Regions from separate parts of the Homo sapiens genome. Here regions 1, 2, 3, 4 and 5 are each reported to be linked to region 6. Evidence: microRNA targets listed by miRTarBase, many of them from high-throughput screens and not tested one by one. Region 6 holds a microRNA gene; each other region holds the end of a gene's coding sequence.

Region 1 (5,068 bases), not on the chromosome of region 6:
ACCATCCTGGGCAACATGGGGAAACCCCATCTCTACTAAAAATACAAAAATTAGCCAGGTGTGGTGGCGTGTGCCTGTAATCCCAGCTACTCGGGAGGCTGAGGCACGAGAATCACTTGAACCTGGAAGGAGGAGGTTGCAGTGAGCTAAGATCGCACCATTGCACTCCAGCCTGGGCAACTACGTCTTAAAAAAAAAAAAAAAAAAAAAAAAAAAAAAGCCAGGCGCGGTGGCTCACGCCTGTAATCCCAGCACTTTGGGAGGCTGAGGCGGGCGGATCACAAGGTCAGGAGATCGAGACCATCCTGGCTAACACAGTGAAACCCCGTCTCTACTAAAAATACAAAAAATTAGCCGGGCATGGTGGCAGGCGCCTGTAGTCCCAGCTACTTGGGAGGCTGAGGCAAGAGAATGGCGTGAACCCGGGAGGCAGAGCTTGCAGTGAGCCGAGATCACGCCACTGCACTCCAGCCTGGGAGACAGAGCAAGACTCTGTCTCAAAAACACAAAAACAAACAAACAAAATGGGCCAGGCGTGGTGGCTCACGCCTGTAATCCCAGCACTTTGGGAAGCCGAGGTGGGCGGATCACGAGGTCAGGAGATCGAGACCATCCTGGCTAACATGGTGAAACCCTGTCTCTACTAAAAATACAAAAAAAAAAAAAAAAAATTAGCTGGGCGTGGTGGCGTAGTCCCAGCTACTTGGGAGGCTGAGGCAGGAGAATGGCGTGAACCTGAGAGGCGGAGCTTGCAGTGAGCCGAGATCGCGCCACCGCACTCCAGCCTGGGTGACAGAGTGAGACTCCATCTCAAAAAAAAAAAAAGAAACCCAGTTATTGATGTGCGGCTTCTGTTCTCAGCCAGGAGGCAGGCTCAATGGTGTCCCCAAACCAGTGGTTATGGTTCTCAGGAACAAAATACTGATCAAGGCAAACCTCCTTCTACAAACTTTCCTCTTCATTTAAGGAGCCAAGGCAAAGAGGGACCACTGTGCTCATGGACCCATCGCTGCCTTCCAAGGACCATTTCCCAGAGCTACTCAACTTTTAAGCCCCTGCCATGGTTGCTCCTGGAAGGAGAACCAGCCACCCTGAGGACCACCTGGCCATGCGTGCACAGCCTGGGAAAAGACAGTTACTCACGGGAGCTGCAGGCCCGTCACCAAGCCCTCTCCCGACCCAGGCTTTGTGGGGCAGGCACCTGGTACCAAGGGTAACCCGGCTCCTGGTATGGACGGATGCGCAGGATTTAGGATAAGCTGTCACCCAGTCCCCATAACAAAACCACTGTCCAACACTGGTATCTGTGTTCTTTTGTGCTATGAATTTGGATTCCTAATTGCTATTGTTGGTTGCTGGGGTTTTAAATGATTGATAAGCTTGTACAGTTAACTTATAGAGGGGGAGCCATATTTAACATTCTGGATTTCAGAGTAGAGATTTCTGTGTTGTCTCCTAGAAAGCATTACATGTAGTTTATTTCAGCATCCTTGTTGGGTGGGGCCCTGGCTCTCTTCCCCTTTGGTGGGACCTCCCCTTTCTTTGGGCTTCAGTTCACTCAGGAAGAAATGAGGCTGTCGCCATCTTTATGTGCTTCCAGTGGAAATGTCACTTGCTACAGACAATAGTGCATGAGAGTCTAGAGAAGTAGTGACCAGAACAGGGCAGAGTAGGTCCCCTCCATGGCCCTGAATCCTCCTCTGCTCCAGGGCTGGCCTCTGCAGAGCTGATTAAACAGTGTTGTGACTGTCTCATGGGAAGAGCTGGGGCCCAGAGGGACCTTGAGTCAGAAATGTTGCCAGAAAAAGTATCTCCTCCAACCAAAACATCTCAATAAAACCATTTTAGTTGAAAAGCAGTGATTATCCTGTGTCTCCTTTCTCCTGCTTCAGGTAAAAAACCTTTTATAAAAATATAAAAATTAGCCGGGCCTGGTGGTGCATGCCTGTAGTCTCAACTACTTGGGAGGCTGAGGCAGGAAAATCACTTGAACCCAGAAGGTTGCAGTGAACTATGATTGCATCACTGCACTCCAGCCTGGGCAAGAGGGAGACCTTGTCTCAAAAAACATAACAAAACACGGCCAGGCACAGTGGCTCACGCCTGTAATCCCAGCACTTTGGGAGGCTGAGGTGGGTGGATCACGAGGTCAGGAGATCGAGACCATCCTGACTAACACAGTGAAACCCGTCTCTAATAAAAATACAAAAAAATTAGCCGGGCATGGTGGCGGGCACCTGTAGTCCCAGCTACTTGGGAGGCTGAGGCAGGAGAATGGCGTGAACCCGGGAGGCGGAGCTTGCAGTGAGCCGAGATCGCACCACTGCACTCCAGCCTGGACGAAAGAGGGAGACCTTGTCTCAAAAAACATAACCAAACACAAAAAGCCTTAAGGGAATGGCGGCCACAGCTCTTGTTTAATAAAAAGGGACCCTGAGAGCATCAGGGCTGCGGATGGGATCTTAGTTCCCAAGTCCAGCCGTCTTTCTGGGATGGCCCAGGGACTCTTCCCATGAGAAGAAATTAATGCGACAAGTTAGGAAATCAGAAGAAACATCTAGAACCCAACTGCCGCCCACCTGTTACTTCACATCCTGAAGTCCTGACTGTACAACCTCAGGGACAAGTTTCTCTTCCTTTTTTTGTAAGAGTCTCGCTCTGTCGCCCAGGCTGGAGTGCAATGGCACCATCTTGCCTCACTACAATCTCCACCTCCTGGGTTCAAGCAATTCTCCTGCCTCAGCCTCCTGAGTAGCTGGGATTACAGGCGTGCGCCACCATGCCCAGCTAATTTCGTATTTTAGTATTTCGTATTTTAGCCACCGTGCCCAAATGGGCCAGGCATGGTGGCTCACACCTGTAATGCCAGCACTTAGGAGGCTGAGGTGGGAGGATCACTTGAGGCCAGGAGTTCGAGACCAGTCCCAGCAATATAGTGAGACCTCATTTCTACAAAAAATTTAATAATTAGCTGGGTATCGTGGTACATGCCTGTAGTCCCAGCTACTCAGGAGGCTGAGGTAGGAGGATCACTTGAGCCCAAGAGGTTGAGGCTGCAGTGAGCCAAGATTGGCCCACTACACTCTAGCCTGGGCGACAGAGTGAGACCCAATCTCAAAAATCAAAACAAAACAAAAAGGGAAAAAAATAGTATCTTACCAAAAAAAAAAAAAAGGCAATTCTACAAATTAGTACGAAATTCTTTGGGGAATTCTAAAGCAAGCGCAAAGAGTATGGTCTAGAACACAGGAAGAGCATCACGGTGTTTTCCTGAGGGCTGGGCTGCATCTCTCCACTCTGCCGCCCTCTCTGAAAGGCTCGCCACCTGGCCATTCTGAGAAATCAGTCTAAATAGGAAAGACAGCAAACCCTGCCCTCGCCCTGGGGAAGTGGCGCCTTCAGGCTTCTAGAAGAACCGAGATGAGCTTGTGGGTCTACTATCTAATCGCCTTTTCTACTTGTAGGCTGCCAAGGCCCGTAGAGACAGGAAGCTGGTTTTTCTCGAGGCTTCACATGGTCACCTTATTGCCAACAAACACTGCAAGGCTTTATTAGCTAAAATGTCAACCCACACACAGATCAGAGACCGCCCTCAGCTTCTCTGCGCCTTTCCGCCCCGTCACCGCATCAATGGGGTGGAGGCCAAACTCAAACACTTGCGGGGCACAGACGTCCCAGAAGCAAACATGCAAGTCACGGGAGTTTATTTATTTAATTTTTTTCCCCAGATGGAGACTCTGTCGCCCAGGCTGGAGTGCAATGGTGTGATCTTGGCTCACTGCAACCTCCACCTCCTGGGTTCAAGCGATTCTCCTGCCACAGCCTCCCGAGTAGCTGGGATTACAGGTGCCCGCCACCACACCCAGCTAATTTTTATATTTTTAGTAAAGACAGGGTTTCCCCATGTTGGCCAGGCTGGTCTTGAACTTCTGACCTCAGGTGATCCACCTGCCTCGGCCTCCCAAAGTGTTGGGATTACAGGCGTGAGCTACCGTGCCTGGCCAGCCACTGGAGTTTAAAGGACAGTCATGTTGGCTCCAGCCTAAGGCGGCATTTTCCCCCATCAGAAAGCCGCGGCTCCTGTACCTCAGAATAGGGCACCTGTAAGTCAGTCAGTGAAGTCTCTGCTCTAACTGGCCACCGGGGCCATTGTCTTCTGACACAGCCTTGCCAGGAGGCCTGCCATCTGCAAAAGAGAGTTCACTCCTTCCGCTATTTTCATGTGAGTGTATCCAATTTCCTGAAAAACAAACCAAATTCAAATCTGGTTAATAAGTGGGGGAGTTCTTTTTTAAAATCTGAACTGAAAAAAATAAAAATAAAAACAGAAACAAACTGAACTAATGGTTTTTTCAAAATCAGCATGAGGAATTCCAACCCCAGCCGGAAAATGAATGCTAAGATGCAATGGATTATGTTTACCTAAAGTTCTATTTATTTCTTAAAAGGATGCTGATAGTTCTTTCAAAGAAACTGTTAAGAAAATGGGTGGGGCGAGGGGGGGCGGGGTGGTGGCACGGAAAGCCAGGCTAGAGGAAAATATTTATATATCTGATAAAGAACTTGCATCCAGACTGTATAAAGAATTCTCAAAAATTCAGTAATAAAGTCCAGGCGTGGTGGCTCATGCCTGTAATCCCAGTACTTTGGGAGGTCAAGGCAGGTGGATCACGAGCCCAGGAGTTCGAGATCAGCCTGACCAACATGGTAAAACCCCATCTCTACTAAAAATACAAAAATTAGCCAGGTATGGTGGCGCACGCCTGTAATCCCAGCTACTCGGGAGGCTGAGGCAGGAGAATCACTTAAACCTGGGAGGCGAAGGTTGCAGTGAGCTGAGATAGTGCCACTGCACTCCAGCCTGGGCAACAGAGCAAGACTCCATCTCAAAAATAAATAAGTAAATAAATTCAGTAATAAAAATCAAACAACCCAATTAAAAAATGGGTAGATTTAGACCTGGAGCAGTAGCTCACACCTGTAATCCCAGCATTCTGGGAGGCTGAGGCAGGAGGATCACTTGCCCAGAGTTGGGCCTGGGCAACATAGCAACACCCAAACTCTACGA
Region 2 (5,070 bases), not on the chromosome of region 6:
CAACACTAAGGACACCCCTCGGGCCCTGAGTGCCAGCCGGGGGCTGTGGACGGCGGCTGAACCAGCGCCAACACTCAGGCCCTGTGCTACCTTCTCTTTGCCTATAATGTCTTCCTTTGTCCTCAGTTAAAAAAACCAATACTTGGTTTGCTTTAAATGACAGCACATGTGAACAGTGTAACTGCTTTTGCCTTGAAAAGGGAGAGGCATTATTTAGGCTCCAGTAACTTCTCTGATAAGGGCCCAGTGTGAGGATTTTGTGTTGAGTTAAACCCTCAAGATTTTGTTGGGAAGTGAAATTGACACGGGTGGCTGGATATCTTTAGGTTCCAGCATTCACATGACCACGTGATCAATAATTCTCCGTTGAAGTTGTTACGCTGGGCTGCATTTTAAAACCCACGTTACCGTGATGGTGCTGAGTTGGGGGAACACACTCCTGCACCCAGAACAGGGCTGCGTTTTCCTTTTGGGCTGAGCATCTTCTGACCCCCCTCCCTTGTATCCGGCAGGTGGTTCTACCCAGGCAATAACCCCTACACTGGGACCCCCGACTGGTTGTATGCAGGGGATTACTTTGAGCGGAATTTCTCCGACTGCCCAGATATCTACTGAGGGCCTGGAGGGGCCTGGGGCCCGGGACCGGAGGCTGACGAGGCTGGACTTCCTCGAGTGGCCACTGTGAGCCTCGTCACAGCAGAAACCAACTTTTCTAACGACTGAGTTCGCGGAGATAGCATCATCCCTGATCAAGGATGTAATTCTAATTAACTGTTGATTGCCAAACATTTCACTCTGCTGTGCCGTCTCTTCATAAAGCTTCACTTGGGATCATCGTCTTCATTAAGGTTTCAACAGGGAAATTCTTCACGGCGCCCTTTTATGTGGCAGAAATCAGCTGGGGCTTGTTTAGCTTCCAGCACACTCTCAGTCATAGCATGTGTAGCTAAAGGAAGTAATGGGAAGGGGTTCATGTTCTCTTTATAATGCAGTGGCAAAAGGTTCTGAAAGCCTTTTAAACTCGAACCAGTGGGGGAAAGATGGATCTTGAAGCTAATCCTGCAGAGAGTTTTATAGAGGCCAGGGATTGCCTTCTAAATTATGATAAAACAGAAGTGAAGAGTTTCAGAGCATCAGATTGAGTGAAAAGTTGTCAGATTCTGTATTTTTTAACAATCTTCAATAATGTAAAGATTACTTTTAAAATATTTAAGTTAAAACTACTTGAATAGTATTTTGCTGAAGAGCAAGATATGCATTAATCACCGGTTTTATACTGTCCAAAATGAAGCATCCCCGTGACAAACCAGAGTGGGCAGAAGCATCGAGAGCGTGACAGGAAATCCCAAGACTGCTTCCGCCTCAGAGGCGTCCCGGCTGCGATTCGCTGCCCTGTTGTCAGTGAGGCCTGGCTGTCACCGCACACCGCGTCCGTGTCTCCAGGGGGTTCCTTTCTTCTCACACGTCGCGTGTACCCATAGCACTCTTGTGTTTCTGTTTTTCCCAGTATGCATGTTTAAAATAGAAGTGACAAGAATCACATCCGGTTGTGTCCTGTGGGAGGGTCAGAGGCAGAATCTACTTACAGTGGTGTAATTAAAGTTATTTAACCAAAAATAGGTATGTGTCCATCTCAGCATTCACCTTTATCAAGTGACTGATTTTTTTTTCTTTTCTTTCCTTTTTTTTTTTTTTTTGAGACGGAGTTTCACTCTTGTTGCCCAGGCTGGAGTGCAATGGCATGATCTCGGCTCACCGCAACCTCCGCCTCCCGGGTTCAAGCGATTCTCCTGCCTCAGCCTCCCAAGTAGCTGGGATTACAGGCACGCGCCACCACACCTGGCTGATTTTGTATTTTTAGTAGACACGGGTTTTCACCATGTTGGTCAGGCTGGTCTCAAACTCCCGACCTCAAGTAGTCTGCCTGCCTCAACCTCCCAAAGTGCTGGGATTACAGGCGTGAGCCACTGCGCCTGGCCGTGACTGATTTTTTTTCATGTAGAATTGTCAACACGAGAGATCACAGTGGAGCACTTTGAAAGACCGTCGGTTGTGTGCACGCACGCACACACTCATGCACACGCTGACACGCGGTTGCATGGAGTCCAGGTTACTCAGGCCGGCACTTCTGAGTGACAGGTGCCACCTGCGTGTGTCTTGGCGTCCACATCACACCTGTGACGGAAGCACTTCTGGAAGTGAACACTCGTTTTGAAAGCTTGATTTTGTAGCTTTGGAAGCTGGAAGCGATGGTGTTTGGTGCCGAGTCCTGTGTCATCCTCGGGGCCTATGAGCTCCGTACCAGCCACTCAAAAGTGTCTGAACAGAACCGCTCCGTGACTGGTAGCTGGGTCTGAGGATTCAGGATTGTGGCGTTATTCAAAGAGGAGACTTTGAAATTCCCCGATGGCTGGAATGTGGAGCCCAGGTGCCTCTGGTGGAGGGTCATCTGCTTTTCCAGACTGTGGTTGTGAACCGGCTCCTTCTCCAAGAAAGGTTGCAAGCTGAGAACATCCAGAGGTGAGACTCAGACACATTGAAAGTGACTGCATTTAGGGAGGTTTAACGAGTTCTTACTGATCATTCCACTTGTTACTGGTTAAGATAATTTGCCCACGGGTTTGTTTCCAAGTCCTCTTCTAGGACCAGGCTCCTGGTATTTCAGGGGCTGGTTGGCTGCACAGACAGCCCCTCTTCTGCTGTCCTTGAGGACAGACACCAAACCAGAGGTGGAGGAAGAACGGTAGGAAGGCTGATGGCAAAAGCGGCTGTGTGTCGAGGTTATTTTAACTTTTTACTACTTTTTGTTACTGTTTCTGCAAATGCTAACACATAAACCATGACCTAACTTTTGTCACCTTGGATATCTATTGAATGTTAAACATCTCTAATAAAGATGGCCACCACTTAATGTGTGGAAAGTGATGGCCTTCTCGTGGGCCACGCGTTTGGGTGTGAGTATGGCCTTGACCAAGGGTCTTGGTGCTTTATTCACTTTTAGAGATAGGGTCAGTTGCCCAGGCTCGAGTGCAGTGGTGCAGTCATAGCTCACTGCAGCCTCGACATCCTGGGCTCAAGCAGTCCTCCAGCCTCAGCCTCCCAAGTAGCTAGGACCATAGGCACATGCCACCAAACCCAGCTATTTTTTTAAAACAATTTTGTAGAGACAGGATCTCACTGTGTTGCCCAAGCTGGTCTTGAACTCCTGGGCTCAAGCAATCCTCCTGCCTCAGCCTCCCAAAGTGCTGGGATTACAGGTGTGAGCCACTGTGCCAGGCCCTTGGTTCTTTTAAAAAATTAATCCTGTCATGTAGGATGTCCTTACAGAATGAAAAACCTAGCAAGCTTATTCCCCAACAGAACCTAATACCTTGGTTGGATTCTATTGCTAATTGAAATGAGAATTCGGTTCTATGGTCATTGGTTCAGGGTGTATGTATTGTGAGCTGCTGGAGACAGAACGGTGAACAGGCATGCCTCCCGGAGAGCCATATGCAAAGCACGGAGAGCCACATGCAAAGCACGTGTTGGCAACATAGCACATGCTGCTGCTCACCAGGCTCACCTGGGATGACGGTGTGGATCTGAGTCGCTGGCCACGTGGCGACGTCTGCCCTGCCCTAGTGTCCAAGGACGGTGAAGGGTCGGGTGTCACCAACACCTGCAGCCTTCTCACCGGGCGAGGCTTGGGTTGTGGGAAGTGGGGGACAGCTGGCCCTGGTCCCCAGCCCTGATGGACATCCGGCATTTTGCTGGTGCAGGCTGTCCTGAAGCCAGACCCTCCCGAGACTGCTGTCTGGGAGGAGAGCGAGCCAGCGGCCCAGATGCCTTGGTCGTGGGGAGGTGCCTGTGTGTACCGTGAGTTTCCCAGCCTCCGGCGGCAAGTGGGAAAGCCGGTACAGGAAGAGTGGTGCCTGCAGGTGCTCCCGGTCACCACCACCCCTTCCAGACGCCATCCCCAGAGCTCACATCTGTGCTGGCTGGAGGGTCAGGGCTCCACTCTGCCCGACAAGCAGTCTGGTGCAGGGGACGCAAATGTCAGACCCAGCAGGGCCCGGCACTTGGAGAAGTGCCACATGCCACCCTGGTGGCCTCCGGGCACCCCACTGTCCACGTGTCTGAGCATGGAGCTGTCCATCTGGGGCATTGGCCTTGAACACCAAGGACCTGCCCCGGTTTGCCAGGCACATCTGAACACAAGGTCAGGAGGTTAGAACAGGACAAGAGAAACGCCTGGAGGCCTCCTCACAAGGCATCCTGCTCTTTGGGGAAAATTTCTCCCCAGCAGAAATGGGGATTTACAAGTTTTACAGGTCCTTGTCATTTCCGTGAAGGAAAACAAAGCAAAGACAGTTACGAGTTCTGGTGAGCTTCCCACTGAGCTGGGCGACAGAGTTCAGGTCTCCAAGTGCCGGGCCCTGCTGGGTGTGACATTTGCGTCCCCTGCACCAGACTGCTTGTCGGGCAGAGTGGAGCCCTGACCCTCCAGCCAGCACAGATGTGGACGAGGGGCGCAGCTGGACCCCAGAGGAGAGTTCGATCCATCTGCAGGAAGTCCTGATGGTCCCAGTTTTCTTTGATGGCCACATCTGGACTTGCCTGTGTGTAAAGTGGACACAAAAGACGGGGCCCCTGCCGTGGCCGAGAACGTGGCGGTGGCTCCTGCTGCTTGCCAGGCAGCACGGGAGCTGGGTCTCCCTCGGACCCCTCAAAAGATGGTTCCTCACCGTCTTCTACAGGCTGATGTAAAATTTCTGTGAGGCGAAAGCCACATTTGCCAGCTCTGGGTACGAAGTTCACTTCACAGTCGGTCCTTCGCTTGGTGAGCTTTGGGAGCCAGGCTGCCGTGGCCAGATGTTTAGGAGCACGACGGTGGCTCTGCAGAGGGCGATGGTGTGCAGCCGGGCTTTCCTGTCGCCCACACCTTGCAGGCCCTCACCCCTCCCCGTGCCTTCACCCAGCTCCTCCTCCAGTGCCATTCATCCCAGCAGGCAGCAAGGACATGGCAGCTGAGAAAAGATGCCAGCAGAACGCACTTATTTTATAATATTTAACAACTGTCAGTGCCAA
Region 3 (5,073 bases), not on the chromosome of region 6:
GGTCAGGCTGGTCTCAAACTCCTGACCTCAGGCGATCCACCCGCCTCGGCCTCCCAAAGTGTGGGATTACTGGCATGAGCCACTGCGCCCAGCCTAATAATTCTTTAACAAGGGCCCAGGCTTTCACTTTGCACTGGGCTCTGCAAATTACCAGGCCTGTCCTGACTGGAGGCAAGGGCTGAACCCATCTGGTGGGGGAAAAGGGCCAAAGAGGAGGTCAGGAAATGCTTCATAGAAGGACCCCGAGGGAGGAGGTGAGTCGTGCAGGCAGGCCTGGGTGTGGCTATGTGAGACTGTGAGGTGGGAGTGTGTTGCGTGCGCTGGTGTGTGCAAGTGTGTGAGGTTGTGAATACGGTCCATGCGAGTGTGTGAGAGCAGGCAGCGTCTGCAGTGCGTGCAGGGGCATGTGAGTGAGGGCTTGTGAATATTTATCTTTGTGAGTGTGAGTGTGTGTGACTTTGGTTCCCATGAGTGTGTATGAATGTGTGTGGTGTGTGGGGGAGGTAGTGGCCAGGGCAGGGAGAGTCACGGGGCCATTTAGCAAATATTTATCGAGCACCTCCTCTGTGCCAGGCGCTGTGCAAGGTGCTGAGGTGAGTAAGCCCCAGCACTTGCCCAGAGGTGCTCACAGCCCGGCGAGAGAGAGAGATGTGTAAACAGACAACAGCAGAGAGAGAGAGCAGATTGAAACCAGACTCCTCAGAAATGCAACCCCTTCACCCACTTCCCCCAGGAGAAGCCAGACTTCCCCAGAATTGGTGGGACAGGTGGGGCTGTGGGATAAGCCAGGAACTGTCCCAGGGGGCCAACCCCAGCCCCTCCTCAGGCACACCCAAACACGACGGGAGGGGTGACCTCCCTCTGACCTGCTCAGCGACACACCCAATCCCACAGAAGCAGATAAGAGGTGACCAGCAGCTCCGGCAGGGCGGGATATAAACAGCCCGGCCCTGTGGCTTCCTCCCCACCCCCACTCCCCAGCCCAGGACACACCTGAGGGGATGCAGACTCTGGTGGGCGAGAGACCGGGCCGTCTCCTGCTAGGAGGCCCCTGGGCTGGTGAGAGTCGGGGTAAGGGTGACTGGTGCCCGACAGAGAGGGCAGCACGGAGGCCAGCCCAGGGGCCCGTGCCAGGACTCTGCAGCATCCTGAGGGGTGAGAGGGCAGAGAACTGTTGGGGAGAAAGGCGTCCCTCCCAGAGCTGCCGTCTTCCAGGCTGTCCCAGGCGCTGCCCTGCAGAGGCCACCTGCCCAGGTGGTCTCACTGAGCTGCAGCGTGGAGGCAGGCATGCTGTGAGCTGGCCCCGCTCTCACCCAGTCAGTGACTTCAGCCCACCACTAGCCTTGTCAGTAAAATGGGGACACCTGGTCTCCTCAGCGAGCTGTGGGGCGGATCAAATGAGATAATGGGATGAGGAAAGCGCCTCATAAACTGCAAATGGCAGGGCAAAGGTCAGCACGCAGCGGGCAGCACCTGCCCCCAGCCCTCCAGAAGAGGGTGAAGGGGCTGAGCGCCATATTCCCAGCCCTCCTCCCTGCTAGGATCTCCTTTAGAAGCTGAAGAGGCTGGGAGTCAAGGGAGGCTGAACAAGCATGTCCCGGGCTCTAGAGGCCCCTCCCCCACTTCTTGGCTAGGTGACTTCAGGCCACACTGGGTCACCTCTCTTCTTTTTTTTGAGACAGAGTCTCCCTGTGTCACCAGGCTGGAGTGCAGTGGCATGATCTTAGCTCACTGCAACCTCCGCCTCCTGGGTTCAAGTGATTCTCCTGCCTCAGCCTCCTGAGTAGCTCGGACTACAGGCGCGTGCCAGCATGCCCAGCTAATTTTTGTATGTTTAGTAGAGACGGGGTTTCACCGTGTTGGCCATGATGGCCTCGATCTTCTGACCTCGTGATCCTCCCGCCTTGGCTTCCCAAAGTACGAGGATTACAGGCGTGAACTACCGCGCCCAGCTGGGTCACCTCTTTTAAGGGTGCAAGGACCCCGAGATATTGTGGCTAGGGAAACTAGACCAGAGTCTAATGCATAATTTCCAAGAAATGGGGTCATTTTTAGACTAAGTAGCTGTGAAAGCTTCCCCAGCTTCTGAGGCTAGACCTACGCCCTGGCCCGCATCCCCTTTGTCTAACTGGCTCACACTTCAGAAGGGAAATGTAAGTAAAAGCCTTTTTCCAAATGGCTCCAGGATTCTGGTTTCTCTCATGACCTCACTTTCCTCTCCAATCAACTTCCCCACTCTCCTTTTCCACCATTCCTTGCTTCTCCAGAGCAAGCTGCATTTCCAGAAATCCACACACAAGCTTTAGTTTTTCTAAGATCCCTTCTTTATCCACATCACTTCAGCCAACAATCTGATTGGTATTTCCAAGACAACAGAGCAGTATTTCAAACTCATGAATGGGATTTTAATGTGCTGTATGGAATTTGAAGCCTCAAACTTAAGGAACTTTCCACCTGGAAAGCATTCTTAAGTAACATCAATGAACTGTCCTCCCTAAAACCTAGACACAGTATCACTGTGGAAACAGAGTAATAGTTCTGGAATCGATTGAGGATTAGGTTAGAAGCGCCCACACCAGGAAAAGCTTCCGGGAAACGGTTTTAGGACAGAATCAAGGCACACCTGTGGAACCTCTTTCTGCATCTGTCAAATGGGGACGCTGTGTCTCCTCTCTTCTTAGGAGAGGATTAAATGAGCCAGAGTGGGCTAGCACAGTGCCTGGCATGAGACTACAGTTTCACTGGGTGCTATACTCACTACCTGGGTGACAGGATCATTCGCATCCCAAGCTCAGCATCACACAATATACCCATGTAACAAACCTGCGCACGACCTCCTAAATCTAAAGTAAAAGTTGCAATTAAAAAAAAAAGAGAAAAAGACTACACTTTCAACAAATGCCAACTCCTTCCCTCATTCTTTCTCAGCAAGTACTCATCTCCATTTTGTTTTGTTTTTTTTTTTTTTTCCTTTACAAGATCCTAACTCTGATTTTGTCAGACTCAAAAGCTGGGATTCATATTACAGATATACAGTTTACAGCACACTTGGCTGGAATGCAAAACCATCTATTCCACAAGGCCAGCCATGCAATTCTAGACATCTTGAGAACATCAGGTCCAAACCCTAGCCTAATAGGAAAAATCAGTCCTAAACAGGACAGACTTGGTCAAGGTCAAGGTCACTCGAGCGGTGTCATGACAGCAGGATGCTTCTGACCTCAGTGTTCTGAGTTCATGTCCTTGCTTGCATGAAGTCTTGTAAGCGTTCTCCAACAGTCTCAGCTGCTTCCTTTGCTCGCCTCCCAGCCCAGTCCATGTGTCTGTAAGCCCACACCTGCTACAGGAAATCTGTAACTCCCCTCTTCGTCAGCCTTTGCCCTCACCCTCAGCCTGGTAGACCTTCATTTTCCTCCCCTCCAACCTCTTGACCATATTCGATCCAAAGGCCCAAATTTCAGTACACAGGTAGCTAAGACAAAGGTTAGAAAAAGCCCAGAAGGCACTTTATTGGAGGTCTCTGCCTCCATTCACAGGAGAAAGGAGCTGGGAGCCCCATCCTAAGGGTCCCAGCATCAGCCCACTGGAGGGCCTGGAACAGTCCAGCACTCTGTGGGAGAGGAGTGGGGAGGGGAATGTTTTAGAAAAAATAGATCTCTATGTACATCTGACATATTTATATAGCACATAAATTAGGGAGTGCTCTGACCCCTGCCCGTGGAGCCCAAGCACTGAGCAGGGAGGTGAACGCCAGTCCAGAAAGAAGGTGCTGGAGCCCCTGCTCTGTCCTCTCCATCACGGTGCTCCCCTAGGGCCTCCCCAGGCCTCCTTGGCTCAGTCCAGGTGTCTGCAGGAGGAAGGTGTTGTCTGCATTTAGTGTCTGAGACTGGGTTTGAGGAGGCACCAGATAAAAGGAGATACACTTGCAGCTATAAAGTCAGCTTCAAACCCCAGGGCTTGTAATTCCAAGAGGAGGGTGGGGAGGCGAGGCCATAGTCTCCGAGTCCCAGGACGATGGCTGACAATACACCAAAACATCAGCTTCTCTCCACAGCACAGCTGGGAGCATTCCCCAGTGGAGGGGCCATCTGGCCTGCCTGTCCTCCCAGGAAGGTTTGCAGGCCTCGAGTGGTCCGTGAGTTTGGTCCCGGGTATAGTTCCAACCCTCAGTTCCGACTCTGGAGAACCTCTTCCTCCTTCCAGCCGCTTGAGTTTTTGCCAAACTTGTAGACGAGTCGCCGGCCATCCACCCGTTCCAGGATCTCCCGTTTGTAGTAGTACCTGGGTGAAGAGAAGGATGGTCAGAGGTGCTTTGGCAGGAAATGGGCCCCAGGCTGCCAGCCCGCCCACCTGGCCCGCGTTACCCCCAGGTAACCCATGCCCACTGGTCTCTGCCTGACTAAGCTGAGCCTGACTCACACTTCCTAAACTCCTCTGTTCTTCACACTGGCAAGCAGAAGCTCTTTCCCTACACTGGCCTGTAACCGTGCCCAGGACACAGGGCTCTTTGCCTTTGCTTCTTTGTATCCTATGGCTGTGACTGGGGTCTGATCATTAAATTACATGACTTTTAAGGCCAGGGAGCTGGGCACGGTGGCTCACACCTGTAATTCCAGCACTTTGGGAGGCTGAGGCGGGCGGATCACTTGAGGTCAGGAGTTCGAGACCAGCCTAGCCAACATGGTGAAACCCCCGTCTCTACTAAAAATACAAAAATTAGCTGGGCATGGTGGCAGGTGCCTGTAATCCCAGCTACTTGGAGGCTGAGGCACAAGAATCACTTGAACCCGGCAGGCAGAGGTTGTAGCGAGCCAAGATTGTGCCACTGCACTCTAGCCTGGGTGACAGAGCGAGACCCTGTCTCGAAAAATAAAAAGAAGAAGAAGAAAAAAGAAAAGGCCAAGCATACTGGCTCACACCTGTAATCCCAGCACTTTGAGAGGCCGAGGCAGGAGAGTCATTTGAGGCCAGGAGTTTGAGACCGGCCTGGCCAACGTAGAGACCCTTGCCTCTATTTAAAAAAGAAAAAGAAAAAAAAAGTAAGTACATGATTTTAGGGCTGGACGGGATCTT
Region 4 (5,073 bases), not on the chromosome of region 6:
GTCTTGTCAGAGAAAATAATTTCAAGCCTCGCCCTGCCACTCCTTCACTTCTTCAATAATTTCCTGGCTCATTAGTTTCAAAAGCATTAATATTGTTTTGCATGATTGAAAAATGCTGGAAACATTCCAGTTCTCAGAAATTCAGGTAGCCAAACTGGTTTTTCATTTTGTATTTTCCTCCAGGAATATGGTGCTGATTATCACCTTCCAGTCATTCTTAAAAGAAACAATGATTAGAGTCAAACAACTTAATTCAATGAATACATATTGAATGCTTAAGTATTTTTAAAATATCAAGAACCACTTGGAGTTATAAAAACAGATACTCCATAAAGGAGATTAAATAATTAAGCCACATAATTGTGTTTTCCTTTTTTTTTCAAGATGGAGTCTTGCTCTGTCACCCAGGCTGGAGTGCGGTGGCACGCTCTCTGCTTACTGAAACCTCTGCCTCCTGGGTTCAAGTGATTCTCACGCCTCAGCCTCCTGAATAGCTGGGACTACAGGCATGCGCCACCATGCCCGGCTAAGAGATGGGGTTTCACTGTGTTGGCCGGGCTGGTCTTGAACTCCTGACCTCGTGATCTGCCCGCCTCGGCCTCCCAAAGTGTTAGGATTACAGGCATAAGCCACCTCGTCCGGCTGTGTTTTCATTTTTAAAGCACACCACAATTCACCTGAGATCTGGTGGCTAGTATAGATCATTCTCATTGTGATAGCACTGGGAACATTACATAAAACTTCAGGAAGATCAGATGATTGGGCCCTAGTATACCCACTGTGCCTAACAGGCAGCAGCTGTTCATATCACAGGTATGCGGCAAAGTTTAAAACATCATTTCACATGCTTTTTCTCTATACTAGTCCTTTATCTAATTGGGGCGGGGCTGCTATTTCTGCAGGCAGCATCCTATGTGTACAGCAGCTAGAAACAGGAAAGATATATGTGAGAAACAGATAACTCAAGTAATGAGAAAAGCTAATAATAGAATGACCTGCTGTATCAATTCTTTGGTCTCTTGGTGGCTCCATTTAATGAGTTTTCAACATGCTACTCCTGCAAGTCTTCTTCAGGAGCTGCCCCAAGCCACATATATCTGCTCTCTTCTATCATGGAACAGTATGATAAGAAACAGTACACCTTTATGCTGCTAGGTAGGCAGTTTTATTATGCTGTTACATAGAGCTCTTTCCATGAAAAGTGATTTTAACATGAACTGCCCATTCTGCAAAGAGGAAAAATATGTTGAATTAGTTAAATATCCAATTCAAAAGATGTTACAGTAAAATACATGTAAGACTTAACAAAAAAAAAAAAAAAGGACAGAGACACAATTTCTTATCCTCAATTCTCATCTCCAAAAAGCTATGAAAACCAGTTTATTTACAAAGCTTGGTGACAAAACCTGACCAAACTTGATCTGAGGCTCTTTATGATCTTTAGTTATACTTAGTGGGGATGTTCATAAATCACCACAAAAATAGGAGTATATTTGATAATGAGCTGCCATCCCAGACTTTTTTTTAGTAGTTTTGAGTGAAATATTTTACACAGATCCTATTAGTTTTTGAATAGCTCAAAAATTTTGATGCAAAACACAGCTAGACCTAAGTTTTCAAATAAAGGACTGCAAAGCAGTACTTCCCCAAACTGTTAATGATACAGTGATTCTACTAAATTCAAAGACAGTCCCAATAAATATTTTTGTCCCCTTGTATGTCATGAGGATAAATCTCCAGGGAAAAAAAGGGCATGTCAGAACGATGTGCAGGCTGTGTGAAAACTGACACATGATTTTATAAATGATGTAGCTGTAAGACACTGTGTCATTACCAGAAGTTATTCATCCATAAAGATAACATATTGTGTGGTTGCTAATAGTTATCTCCCTAAAACCGAAAAGTCCCATTCTTTTCAAGTGCTTAGATACAGTGCTTTAGGACATTCTTATGTAGTTCTAGTGCTTAGAATATTCTTTTTTTTTTTTTTTTTTTTTTTTTTTTTTTTTTTTTTTGAGATGGAGTCTAGATGGAGTCTCCCTCTGTTGCCCAGGCTGGAGTACAGTGGTGCAATCTTGGCTCACTGCAACCTCCACATCCCAGGTTCCAGCGATTCTCCTGCCTCAGCCTCCTGAGTGGCTGGGAATACAGGCACGCACCACCACACCTAATTTTTTGTATTTTTAGTAGAGACGGTGTTTCACCATGTTGGCCAGGCTGGTCTCGAACTCCTGACCTCAAGTGATCCACCCGCCTCGGCCTTCCAAAATGCTGGGATTACAGGCATGAGCCAGTGCGCCCGGCCCAGGATATTCTTATTCAGTGCTTCTCAATTTGGTTAAGCATTAGAATCTCCCAGAGAGCTTTGTAAAAATACCCATGCATGGGCCTCATTGTCCAACATTCTGACTAACTTGGTCTAGAAAGGGGCCCTGGCAACAATGTTTTAAAAACTCCTTACATGATGATTCAATGTACAGTCAGAGCTTTAAAAAGTCTCAATATCCAGGCTGTACCTTAGATCAGATAAATCAGAATTTTGCAGTGTGAAACCCAGACATCAGTACTTTTTTAAAAACATGCCCTGGTGGCTGGGCACAGTGGCTCACATCTTGTAATAGATCTTTGGGAGGCTGAGATGGGCAGATCACTTGAGGTCAGGAGTTCGAGACCAGCCTAGCCAACGTGGCGAAACCCTGTCTCTACTGAAAATACAAAAATTAGCCGGGCGTGATGGTGCACGCCTGTGATCCCAGCTACTTGGGAGGCTGAGGCATGAGAATCACGTGAACCCAGGAGGCGGAGCTGAGATCATGCCACTGTGCTGGAGTCCAGCCTGGGCCACAGTGTGAGACTCTGTCTCAAAAAACAAACACATAAACAAAAAAAGCAAACATGCCCTGGTGCTTCCAATGTATACCCAAAGTTTAACCCAATTGTTGCAACCCCCTGATCTAACTGGCTTAAAGGTTAAGGGTGTGATTGTTTTTTCTTCTGTCCTGAAGTAAGTCAGTTCTAGATCATCACCATAGTAGGGCCACCAATAAAGAATTCTAAGCATTATCCACTCTGGTGGTGGTGTATTCATAAATCCTTCCCCAGTTTCTTTAAAAAAGCAAAAGGGGCAGGAGGAAGAAGGTACAGAAATCACATGAGAAACATTTAAAAATACTTTTAGTAAAATACTCTGTACCCTGTCAAAACTCCTTTGGCACACAGTAAATCATAGTGAAGAACAAACATAGCAGAATTGCCTTAGTTGAGGCTACAGTGTAAGAGAGAATACAACTTAGAAGGTAATAATAGAAAAATCATAGCATTTTCCAGCAATTGATATGACAGTAAATTTATAAAGAAATACAATAATTTCCCAGTGACTCTTAACTGTTCAGGATGCCAGTGCTAAACCAGGTTGCCATACATAATTCAAAGAAAGCTAGAAAACACATTCCACATATTAAATTGAAGATAATTTTTGTTCAGAGAGCAACTGAAACATATAGTAAGTTATATATTTTTTAGATATAAGATAAAATTCTTTTGCTTTTAGTTAAAATGATTTTTTTCATACATTCTAATGGACATATGAAAAAGATATTTACTTTTTTTCATCACTAACCCTGAGGAAGGAAGAACAAATGTGGAGTAGGCCACAAAACTCACTAGGAACCAATCTCCACACTTTTCCCAATTGTGAATAGCAATTAATGGGAGAAGTTCAGGATACTACACTTGTTTAGGCTCCCATACACATCAGCTTAAACTATTTAAAATAGATACAACATTTGGGCAACTAGCACAGTGGCATTTCTCTGCTTCAACTGAGAACTATTTTAAATATCATCACTTTTATTTCCTACACTGGTTTAAACAAACAAAACAAAATAAGACAAAACTTGACATTGATTATGTAAGAACTTTCAGTTCAATATATAGTAATATGTAGGGACAATATAGCTTCATTGCTCAAGACTTCCATTCAGCAGGAAAAAAATGCATAAGTTCTAGGAATTCTTCTCTTTCACTAGAAAGACGCTAGCTATTACAGGGGAGTTGATGAGAGGAAAATGTGAAATCCCATCTCAATGGAATACAGGAGGAACTGGCATTTCCGCTTTGCCATTACAGTTATTATTCTTAGGATGAAAGTTGGAATTGCAAATTTAGCTGGACTCACCAGTTTCAACCTGTGGAAATGAAATAAAGTTCACCCCCTGGGCCAAAAACCCCAAGCAGCAGTTGGGAGCAAGAGGGCAATAAGAACAGAAGAAAACAGATTCACTGCGTTGTTATCAAGAATGGGTTTCCCTGCTATGTGCCTTGCCTTATTTGTTGGGCTGTTGACCACCATGCCAGTGCTTTCATCCAACCCTGGAATGGAAAAAGAAGCAAGTGAGATAGAAAACCCAAATGACTTCATTTTTTTTCTTTTCTTTCTTTTTTTTTTTTTTTATTATACTTTAAGTTCTAGGGTACATGTACTTGATTTTAAAAAAAGAACAAAATAGGCTTTTTCCTCCAAAGGAGACAATCTTTGAAAGGTTCTAAGTGACTTGCTAAATGACTTTAATGGATCATTTATATGATGAGAGACATGGGACCCTTGATTACAAATGGCCTCTTTGAATAAATGGGTTCTCAGTAATTTTCTGTCAATACCTCTGGAATTGCTTCAGAAGTGGAAGAGAGAACATGAAAAGCAGAGAGGGCATGAAACTGGCAGGTTGGGCCTGCCTTCCCAGTGGTTCCCCTCCAAGACTGATCTATGACGTCCTTGGGAGTAGGGATCATGTCTGTGGCCACAGTACTGTAAACGCAGGGTTGAGCATGGGGCTGGCACAAAGGAGGCACACAAAGATTTACAAAATCTCCCCTACTGCATGCATTTCTTTTCAACCCACTCAATGCAATCAGAAACTTCCCCAGTTAGAACCCAATTTAGAATAAAACCTACACTCTTTAAAAAACATGTTTACTGTCTGTGTGTGCGTGTAGAGTTATTGACCCTTTAGTGAGAATTAAGATCAGATTGCTTCGTCCTTAAAATCTAAATGAGACTAACAAAATGGAGAA
Region 5 (5,073 bases), not on the chromosome of region 6:
ACAGGACTCCTTCCTGTTGGGGGCTCAGTACCCGCAGCTGGGGCTTAGGTGGAAGTGTCAGAGCTTGTTTGGAAACTGATCAAAACATTGCCCACCCTCTTGCCCCACCACTCCCCATCCAGCAGGGGTGGACCCCTGGTGTGCAGAGTTCCTAGCAGGGAAGAGAGCCAACATGTGACAGTACATCCGAGCTGTACTTTTTCCCAGGGCAGAAGGTTGAGAACAGGCCAAAGATTCTGTGATAATAGAACCCGGAAAGGGATATTTAGCTAATCAGTTTTTTTTTTTTTTTTTTTTTTTTTGAGACAGAGTGTCGCTCTTGTTGCCCAGGCTGGAGTGCAACGGCACGATCTCAGCTCACTGCAACCTCTGCCTCCCGAGTTCAAGCGATTCTCATGCCTCACCCTCCCAAGTAGCTGGGATTACAGGCGCCCGCCACCACACCCGGCTAATTTTTGTAGTTTTAGTAGAGAGGGGGGTTTCACCATGTTGGCAAGGCTGCTCTCGAATTCCTGACCTTAGGTGATTCGCCCGCCTTGCCCTACCAAAGTGCTGGGATTACAGGCGTGAGCCACTGCGCCCAGCCTGCTAATCCGTGTTCTAATCCGGGATACAGAGGGACATTCATGGTTCTGGGGCAGAATGGAGACATGTCAGCCACAGTCATTGATGGTGAGCACTTAGTATGCGCCGGGCTCATTCCTCCTCTGCAATCGTCTCCTTTAGTCTCGTGCTCACCCTGTGAAGTAGCTTTGTACTTACCCCCATTTTACAGATGAGACTGAGGTGGCAGAGCTGGATTTGAATTCAGGCATCCCGGTCACGCAAAGGCCATGCTCCACCCTAGGACTAGGAAGCAGGTTCCAGGGTGGGTGCGAGTAGAGCATTCAGGGATCAGGGGCCTGGGTATAGGGAGCAGATGTTTGACTGCTGATAGGTTTCAGGTGGAGCCTCAAGTTCAGGGCATCGGGACATCTCGGTTGAGGTGTTTTGTTTTGTTTTTGTTTTTTTTGAGATGGACTCTCGCTCTGTCGTCCAGGCTAGAGTGCAGTGGCGCAATCTCGGCTCACTGCAACTCCACCTCCTGGGTTCACACCATTCTTCTGCCTCAGTCTCCTGAGTAGCTGGGACTATAGGCGCCTGCCACCATGCCCAGCTAATTTTTTGTATTTTTAGTAGAGACGGGGTTTCACTGTGTTAGCCAGGATGGTCTCGATCTCCTGACCTTGTGATCCACCCGCCTCAGCCTCCCAAAGTGCTGGGATTACAAGCATGAGCCACCGCGCCCGGCCGGTTGAGGTTTTTAGCCTGGTGTGTTGGGTAGATTTGGGGCTTTAAAGATGGCCGGTCACACAGGCTTGGGAGGTGGGTGGACAGTGGTCTCCAGTTGGCTTCAGCCTTCCAGGGTAGCAAATAGTGGGCAGGACTGCTCCTCCCCCAACCAGAGCTTAGGTTGGATGTGGGAGAGTCCTAAGTGTCCCCAGGCTGGGCATGGTGGATCATGCCTGTAAATCCCAGAGCTTTGGGAGGCCGAGGCAGGAGGATTGCTTAAAGGGAGGAGTTCAAGACCAGCCTGGGCCACATAGCGAGACCCCATCTCTACAACAAAATGAAAAATTAGCCAAGTGTGCACTCGTAGTCCCAGCTACTTGGGAGGCTGAGGCAGGAGGATTGCTTGAGCCCAGGAGGTTGAGGCTACAGAGTTGTGATCACGCGACTGCACTCCAGCCTGGGCAACACAGTGACACCCTGTCTCAAATAAATAAATAAAATGTAAAAAACGAAGTGTTCCTAGGACACAGATGGGCTTTGGGTATCCAGACTGAAGTGTGTCATCCATTTACCCACTGTGGCCTTAAGACACCCAACACTTCTGCTTCTCCCAGGACAGAATAGGGGGTTGGATGGGGGATGTCCACACTGACCCCAAATTGGATTAAGTGTTTAGATTCAGATTTCAGTGCTACTGGGAACTTTCTGAAAATGAGGACTTGCCAGACGGCTGCTTGGACACCATTCCACCCACCTGTCCCTTCTCGATATACATTGAAGGTGAGAGTGGGACAGGCAGGGTTTGTAGCAGTTGCTCCCTGTCTCTATTTTTGTAGACAGAGTCTAGCTCTTGCCCAGGCTGGTCTCAAACTCCTGGCCTCAAGTGATCCACCCATTTCGGTCTCCCAAAGTACTGGGCTTACAAGCGTGAGCTACCACACCCAGCTGAGTTGCTGCCTGTCTCCAATGTCCTAGAACGTTCTATTGGAATGTTCTAGAAAGCACTATCCAATAGCCCACTCAGCAATGATAGGAATGTTGTCTATCTGCCCTATCTATTAAGATAGCCACTAGAGGCTGGGTGCGGTGGCTCACGCCTGTAATCCCAGCCCTTTGGGAGGCCGAGGTGGGCAGATCACTTGAGGCCAGGAGTTCCAGACCAGTCTGGCCAACGTGGCGAAACCCCGTCTCTACCAAAAATACAAAAATTAGCCGGGCATGGTGGCATGCGCCTGTAGTCCCAGGTACTCAGGAGGTTGAGGCAGGAGAATCACTTGAGCCCAGGAAACAGAGGTTGCAGCAACTGGAGATCCTGCCACTGCACTCCAGCCTGGGTGACAGAGCGAGACTCTTGTCTAAAAAAAAAAAAAGTCACTAGCCACATGTGACAACTGAGGTCTTGAAATGTTGATTTGACTGAGGAACTAAGTTTTATTAAAATATTTTTTATTTTGTTGTTGTTGTTGTATTTGAGACGGAGTCTCGCTCTGTTGCACAGGCTAGAGTGCAATGGCACAATCTCGGCTCTCTGCAAACTCCACCTCCCGGGTTCAAGCTATTCTCATGTCTCAGCCTCCTGAGAAGCTGGGATTACAGGCGCCCACCAATGCGCCCGGCTAATTTTCGTATTTTTAATAGAGACAGGGTTTCACCATGTTGGTCAGGTTGGTCTTGAACTCCCGACCTCAGGTGATCCATCCGCGTGGGCCTCCCAAAGTGCTGGGATTACAGGCGTGAGCCATCGCGCCTGGCCTTTATTTTTATTTTTTTTATTTTTTATTTATTTATTTTTTGAGACAGTCTTGCTGTCGCCCAGGCTGGAGTACAGTGGCATCACCTTGGCTCACTGCAATTTCTGTCTCCCAGGCTCAAGCGATCCTCCTACCTCAGCCTCCTGAGTAGCTGGGACTACAGGCATGTGCCACCACACCCAGCTAATTTTTGTATTTTTGGTAGAGATGGGGGCGGGGGGGGGTCTCACTTTATTGCCCAGGCTGGTCTCGAACTCCTGAGATTAAGCGATCTGCCCACCTCAGCCTCCCAAAATGCTGGGATTACAGGCATAACCCACTGCATCCAGCCAAATTTTATTTAATTTTAATTTAAATAGCCACATGTAGCTTCTGCCTACCATATTGAAGAGCGCATTCTATAACTTTCTAGGAAAAAAAATTCCTTCATCAGATGTTCAAAGTTTATCCCAAGAAAATACCCATAAGGTCAAGAGATTGAGACCATCCTGGCTAACATGGTAAAACCCCGCCTCTACTAAAAATACAAAAAATAAATTAGCTGGGGGCGTGGTGGCATGCGCCTGTAGTCCCAGCTACTCGGGAGGCTGAGGCAGGAGAATGGCATGAACCCAAGAGGCGGAGGTTGCAGTGAGCTGAGATCACACCACTGCACTCTAGCCTGGCTACAGAGTGAGACTCCATCTCAGAAAAACACACACACACACACACACACAAACAGAAAAGGGTAGAATCGCCCTGTTGAAGGGAAAGTGGGGGGTCTAGGCACTTGGTTATGCTTTATAAACTTCTTCTGCTCCTCCCCAAGCAATAGGTTCTAGATGCGAGGGTTCTAGGTGGAGGGAGGCCTTAGAACATGTGTGCCCTGAATTCGTTCACCTTCCCAGAGTTCATTCCCCCACCCTTTTTTTTTAAGAGATGGGGGTCTCGCTATGCTGCCCAGGCTGGTCAAAAACTCCTGGACTCAAGCGGTCCTCCCGCATTGGCCTCCCAAAATGCTGCGATTACAGGAGTGAGCCACAGTGCCCGACCCTCATTACCTTTTTAGAAAGCACCTCCTGACGTTGGCAGTGACATTTATTTTTCTGGGGGAGGGGAGTTATATACAGCAGTGACCCGGAGCCCCTCACCCCCACCAGGCTTAGGTGGGGACAGGAGGCGTTGGCAGAAGGCACACAGTGGCAGTAGCCCAGAAGAGGCCAGGAAGTAAGGGTGGGTATGTGATGTGTCCTGGGAGACCCAGATGAGGAAATTGAGGCTCAGTGAGGGCCTCAGGTCACACAGCAAGGTGCGAAGGCAGCTAGTCCCGAGAGCTTGTGGTGGTTGCTTCTCTCTTGCCTGGGCTACAGGAGGACGCAGGGGCAGCCCCCGCCCTTCTTCCTGGGGGCACTGGGAGGGCTCGGTGGGAGCTCTTGTTCCTGGTATTTCCTGTGGGAAAACGCCAGTGAGTTTGGAGTGGAAGGGCTGGGGACAAGGACGACAGGAAGGGGACTTGGCTCACCGGACAGCCCGCACCAGCTGCTCAAAAGCCTCGTCCACGTTGAGACGCAGTTTGGCCGAGGCCTCAAAGTAGGCCACGTGGTGGGAGGCGCCGAAGGCAGAGGCTTCTGATCGGGGGACCTGGGGGTAGGGGGGACACGGGGGAGTCAGGTCCCTGCACTCAGGGTGACCGCAGCCAGAGAGACAGACAGGCAGGCTGGATACTCTAGGAGAGGTGACCCACTGTGAGAACTCAAAGAGGAAGAGCTCCTGAGAGATTATGGAGGGAGATGCCGCAGGGGCTTGGTGTCTTCTAAGTAAGGGATGGGGGCAGGCTTCGTGGGCACTTGCCCTGCTATGCCTTAGATAACCAGGAGTGGGCAGGCAGGGAAGTCAGGGTGTTCCCGGCAGAGGCAGGCGGAACCCCAAAGCCTGGAAATCCCCAGAGCCTTTGCCAGATGGATGAGTTCTGTGTGGAAATCGTTGTGGGGGAAGTGATGGGAGCAGGGAAAGGAGGGGCGCAACTGTGCGGGGCATCTGGCACCTGGGGAGGAACTGGGGAGCCATGGAG
Region 6 (5,059 bases):
AGCAAGGGCAAAAGAATTCCATAAGGTGAGTATAACTGAGGGAGAAGGACTTAATTTTTCAAGCATGAAGTACACAACTGAAACTCAAATTTTTATTCCTTCCACAGAAAACACTAGAGAAACTTCGAGCCAAAAATACATGCTGACTTTCTAGAAATAGTGTAAAGGTTTTTTAATTGTGTATATGTAGCATTAGACAAAATTATTTAAAGTCAATAAATTGTTATTCGAGGAATTCCATGTTGTGATTTCTTCCACTGTCCATCAAGGTCACTTTAGATCCTCTAAAGAGCTGGAGTCAAAAGATTTATCTTCAAGTTTGCCCTGAAGAAGAGAAATTTTGATTAACCTTTAAAACTCTCACATGGCAACAATCCTGGATTATTACGTTTTATATCTCCTCAGGAAAACATAGCACCAAACATTAGGAGTGCTATGGCTTCCTATAGAGAACTTCCATCTTTGGTCACAGCGTTAAGAGCTCTGGGTTTCACAGCCTCATAAGCCCTCTTTGAAATGACCCATACAAATGTCTTTTCTAATGCATACATACCTTTTTAATGAAACTGATCCAGTTGTCCTGTCAGCCCTACATAACAATAGTATAAAAGTAAATTTTACATTTCCAGAGATGAGTGTACAGTGAGTGAACATGAATGAGTCCCTAGAACGAGCCTGAGTTAACTCTACTACAAACTGCTTGGTTATTAGCAACCCACAAGGGTTACAATATAAAGGCAAAGCAAATTTGCATGATTCAAGAGATCTAGGAGAATTTTCAAATCTCACTGATTTTAAAGAAAAATCACATGTGGTTCACATTTTATTTGTATTGCATTTCTATTACAGTTAATCAACTGTTCCCAATAAGCTGATTGCTAGCAAAGTAGCAGATAGAAAACCTACTGGGAAATTTTTTTATGGTCATGTCCACAGCAAATGAGAAACTGCATTCTAAAAGCCTTGGTAATGACCATTACACCCTTGAGCAAATAACTTATAGTTAAGATAAAAACCATTACTTGCCATAATTACTTTGGCTTCTGTCATCTCGTTTTAATATGGATATACTGATGAAGACTTCAAAATTCACCTGTGGAAAAATGTGTATTTCAAATTTATATTTACTATTAAGTACATAAATCTATCTTTCAAGAATGAGGTTGCTTAGGTTCCAAAGTATCCTGAAACCCGGCACCCCAAGTAAGGTATTGAAAATTCTATGCTTAAAATAGCTATTTAAACTAATAGGTATTTTTAAAAATCAATGATCCCATGCCCATTCATATCCGAATTTGCTCTATGATCATGTTTCTGGTAACTTTTACCTTTGAGCTTTTATAATCTTCTGAAATACAATGCAATATTTAATGTAAATGGATGTTCAGAAAGGCCATTTTCATTCAGCCCCTTCAGAGCAGTTGAACATTTCGCCCATCATCATAACATCGTTAATAATGAAGTTTAAACACATAATAACGTAAGCCTAGTCCTTTTTTTTACTCCTAAGTGGTGATAGATGTTGCAATAGCATTGCTAGATAAATAAATAACCTAAAATAACATTTGGAGAAAAGCTAGTATTCAACAAAATAACCTGCATGGCCTTTTAAGTAATGAATTAACTTACCAAGAATCTTTGGGATCTAATTTCTTCAACCAATTTACTTTAGGGTCCTAGAAGTTGAATTGTACAAAGTACAGTTACATTTTGACACCTGATCCAAGACACAGTAATGTATACCACATTACAATGTTTCAGTCAATATACAGCACATAAAAAAAGTGGTCCTATAAGAGCTGAAAATTCCTTATTAAATGTTATTTCTAATATTGAAAAGTCAACATTTTTCTCCTACATTTTTACTCATAAACATAGCAAAATGTTACAGGTCTCATTGTCACCACTGCAATATGCATACTGTGATGGAAGCATAACCTGTCTCAATTTAGCCACATTAACTATTTTTGGACACCATGATCAACAGTGCCCATTCTCTAGAATGAGGCATTGTAAAAGTCTTTAAAGCTTAGTAGTGTATTTGTACGAAGTTCTTGTTATGCTGGCAGTGCTACTGATAGAGGGAAACAAGCAGAATCAATAGAAACAGAGAATCTTACCTTTTTACTGTAGGTGGTGGGGATCTACCTGGTTCTCAATTTGACACCCTGGAAAAAAAAGCATTGCTTACTATTTTAGAGTATATCAAACTGAACACTCTGAGAAACCTACACAAATACTGTATCAGTAGAAATACCAGGTTTAACAAGCACAAAGCCAAGAAAACCAACGATGCCAGATACTGAATTTCTATAGCACTGACCTTTGAACACCCTAGCAGGTGTAAACTGCTGAGTGCAGATACCATGCAGTGCAATTATGACTGAACTGTACAACTCGTATTCCCAAATTTGCAATATTGCTGAGAAATGCTTTCACAAACCTCTCAAATTCCTTTAACAAGTACAATAATTTGAGCTTTTTTCCTAATTGTCACTGTAATAAGGAAGCTACATTAACTACATTTTAAGCTACAACTCTAGTCTTTGCCTAATCTTTGCCCAGTCTCTCTATAAAACTTAAAGATGGAATATATACATGTAACTTAACAGATCAGACAACAAACGTCAAGCTCATTGTTGCTCAAACTGCCAGTTACACAAAATTCTTTTTATGTAATTCATATCCCTATTGATTCAACATATCCACACAGGTTTACGTGACTTTAGGATGAAATATGTGTAACTGCCAGTTGAATAATGATGCAAAGAACACAGGTAGTTTCGTTTGGTAGGTATAGACATGCAGTCTCTTCATTTTCCTTCTCTATACAAATATATACATTGTAATATTTTTGCCAGTATCTTACTAATTCTGTGTTATACCTGAAATACTGGGATGGTGTAATTTCTATTTTTCATCTTTTGAGTCCTTGATTATTATAAGTTAAATATTTTACTTACCTCTCAACATGAATGAGTTCAAATCACATTCATTCCTATAGAAAGTACCAATTAAAGATTTAGAAAGGATACATTTCCAGTTATTAAAACTAAAACCCAAGTATAAATTTAAGATCCAGTTTATTATACAGCCATATCCAGCTCTGTCAGAATTAAGTTTTAGTTCATGCCCGTTATCATTCAGCAGTTGAACAGTTAAATTCATCATCTGAACTGTAATCATTATTTCCCAAAAGATTATACTGTCACCAATTAAAACTTACCTAAGCGATCACTCAAGAATGGTACAGATGTGTGGAGTATGCCAATACCTAAGGTAAAAAAGTAGATTATCTGGTTTTTCATAACGTTTAGCAACCGTCTTTTTCAAACTTTTAGCAACTGTCTTGTAATTCCTTCCCACAGATCTAACAATAGTCCTGTGAGTAAAGTAAAACCACAGAGTTACTCTATGAGGCGTTTCCAACGATGTGCAGGCTACAGGAAAAGCCCCATCGGGATAGACCTCAACCACTATTTACAAGGTTTTGATTTTTTTTTAAAGACACAGGATCTGCCATGTCTTTTAAAAATCGTGTGATTCTTGCTGAATCACTTGAGCCCAGGGGTTCGAGGCTACAGTGAGATGTGGCAGGATCACATCTCACTGTAGCCTCAAACCGCTGGGCTCAAGTGTTTCTCCTGCCTTAGCCTCCAGAGTAGCTGGGGACCACAGGCACCACTGTGTCCAGCTAGTATTTATACACATAAATAACAAAGTCTAACACTCCATAGGAAAGAAATTATGAGCAGAAACTGCAATATGCTCTTACAATATTGCCAACTGCAGAAACTTCCTACTACGTTAATCACAAAAACAATAATTTCACAATCACGTTGTGCTTAGGAGCCAGAGGAATGATAAATAAAAAGTAACATCAAGTAGCTCCTTTACATGAACCAAAGGAAAAAGATTTAAACTTAAGATTTAAGTTTAAAGTCTAACTGTTGTTATGAACTTCAGTATTGCAACAGAGGATGTTGTTTTCCCAATTCGAAGATTTCAGCAAATTTTAATTCTTGGCTCAAAATTAATTGTCATCCATTATAAAATACAGGAATATAATGTGCCTGTAAGTTACGACTTTGGCATTATATAACTTTTAATCAAACTCTACATCATTCAAATTTATGAATTCTTATGACCTGTGTAATCATCTTTTATTATACTATATTTTGCATTAAACCATAAAATCCTCTGCCTCATTTTAGATTGTGCATTAATTCAAAATAATGCTGTAGGCTTCAAGTAGGAAATCCAAAGTTCTGATTATTGCTACAAACTAACAAATTCAGGACCCTCTAATGCTTGCAACTAAAATGAATCTGACACATCACTATAAAATGTGTGAATCTAGGATTCTTCTTTTCAGAAATCAGTATAAATGGGAATTAAAAGCATGGTAGAAATGTCCCTGAATAAAATGAAACTTGCTCTGACAACATACTGTTTCCTACACATAAACAAATATGATGTGAAAACTCAAATTGAGACATACCTTTAACTCCAGACACCATGTTCTCAAGATAAAAGCCTTTAAAACAAAAAGCCATTGTGTATATCATCAACATGAAATTGGAATGCAAAATTAATACTGCTGAGGATTTCCCTCATATCCCATGCTGTTTATCTATTCTACAGGCCTGGAATCAACCTTTTTTTCTTAAGAGACAGGGTCTGTCTTTGTTACTCAGGCTGGAGTACAGTGGTGCCATCAAAGCTCAGTGCAGCCTCCAACTCTGCCTCAGCCTCCCCCCTTTCTGAGTAACTCCAACTACAGGCACATGCCCCAGTACCCAGCTAATTTTTAAATTTTTGTGGAGATGTGTTTCTTACTTTCTTGCCTAGGCTGGTCTTGAACTCCTGGTTTCAAGCAATACTCCCACCTTGGTGTGGGGATTGCAGGCTTGACCCATTGCACCTGGCCTGGAACCAACCTTTATGGCTATCAATACTCCCATCAATCAACTGTCTCAGGTATCATAATATCCCTTCTTATATGTATCAAAACTCATACTGAACAATGAGTTCTGGGTTGCAAAAGAGGATTTATTTT

The links. The annotated mature microRNA hsa-miR-1304-5p reads UUUGAGGCUACAGUGAGAUGUG and lies in region 6 at 3,601-3,622, opposite strand. An mRNA with a match to its seed (bases 2 to 7 or 8) in the 3' UTR can be bound and repressed. Matches are read on the target gene's strand: a 7mer-m8 pairs with bases 2 to 8, a 7mer-A1 pairs with bases 2 to 7 and ends in A, and an 8mer does both.
Region 1: miRTarBase lists RFC2 as a target of hsa-miR-1304-5p. The part of its 3' UTR that is shown has no 7-base or 8-base seed match.
Region 2: the mRNA of OSBPL2 is a reported target of hsa-miR-1304-5p. Seed matches in the 3' UTR shown: 7mer-m8 at 1,927-1,933.
Region 3: miRTarBase lists ELF3 as a target of hsa-miR-1304-5p. Seed matches in the 3' UTR shown: 7mer-A1 at 3,892-3,898.
Region 4: miRTarBase lists TMEM19 as a target of hsa-miR-1304-5p. Seed matches in the 3' UTR shown: 7mer-m8 at 3,260-3,266.
Region 5: the mRNA of RRAS is a reported target of hsa-miR-1304-5p. Seed matches in the 3' UTR shown: 7mer-m8 at 4,276-4,282.

The regions. Positions count from the first base shown.
Region 1 is chr7:74,227,977-74,233,044 of GRCh38, forward strand. RFC2 (replication factor C subunit 2) reads right to left here. Exons shown (of 11, transcript NM_181471.3): 11 at 3,526-4,240. The coding sequence ends at 4,130. LAT2 (linker for activation of T cells family member 2) reads left to right here. Exons shown (of 14, transcript NM_032464.3): 14 at 968-1,858. Among named protein-coding and RNA genes, the nearest start is that of LAT2, 21 kb to the left of the region's middle. RefSeq lists an enhancer at 1,389-1,668.
Region 2 is chr20:62,293,273-62,298,342 of GRCh38, forward strand. OSBPL2 (oxysterol binding protein like 2) reads left to right here. Exons shown (of 14, transcript NM_144498.4): 14 at 513-2,911. The coding sequence ends at 615. Among named protein-coding and RNA genes, the nearest start is that of ADRM1, 7.2 kb to the right of the region's middle.
Region 3 is chr1:202,014,417-202,019,489 of GRCh38, reverse strand. It overlaps ELF3 (E74 like ETS transcription factor 3), which reads right to left. Exons shown (of 9, transcript NM_004433.5): 9 at 2,307-4,281. The coding sequence ends at 4,167. Among named protein-coding and RNA genes, the nearest start is that of ELF3, 6.4 kb to the right of the region's middle. RefSeq lists enhancers at 789-1,557, 5,060-5,073.
Region 4 is chr12:71,700,130-71,705,202 of GRCh38, reverse strand. TMEM19 (transmembrane protein 19) reads right to left here. Exons shown (of 6, transcript NM_018279.4): 6 at 156-4,371. The coding sequence ends at 4,208. Among named protein-coding and RNA genes, the nearest start is that of TMEM19, 17 kb to the right of the region's middle.
Region 5 is chr19:49,631,210-49,636,282 of GRCh38, forward strand. RRAS (RAS related) reads right to left here. Exons shown (of 6, transcript NM_006270.5): 5 at 4,525-4,643; 6 at 4,083-4,451. The coding sequence ends at 4,367. Among named protein-coding and RNA genes, the nearest start is that of RRAS, 6.4 kb to the right of the region's middle. RefSeq lists enhancers at 1,367-1,866, 4,986-5,073.
Region 6 is chr11:93,730,124-93,735,182 of GRCh38, forward strand. It overlaps MIR1304 (microRNA 1304), which reads right to left and starts at 3,641; the gene lies at 3,551-3,641. CEP295 (centrosomal protein 295) reads left to right here. Exons shown (of 30, transcript NM_033395.2): 29 at 1-25; 30 at 108-235. The coding sequence ends at 146. SNORA25 (small nucleolar RNA, H/ACA box 25) reads right to left here and starts at 523; the gene lies at 390-523. It overlaps SNORA32 (small nucleolar RNA, H/ACA box 32), which reads right to left and starts at 976; the gene lies at 856-976. It also overlaps SNORD6, SNORA1, SNORA8, SNORD5, SNORA18 and SNORA40, and 1 more gene.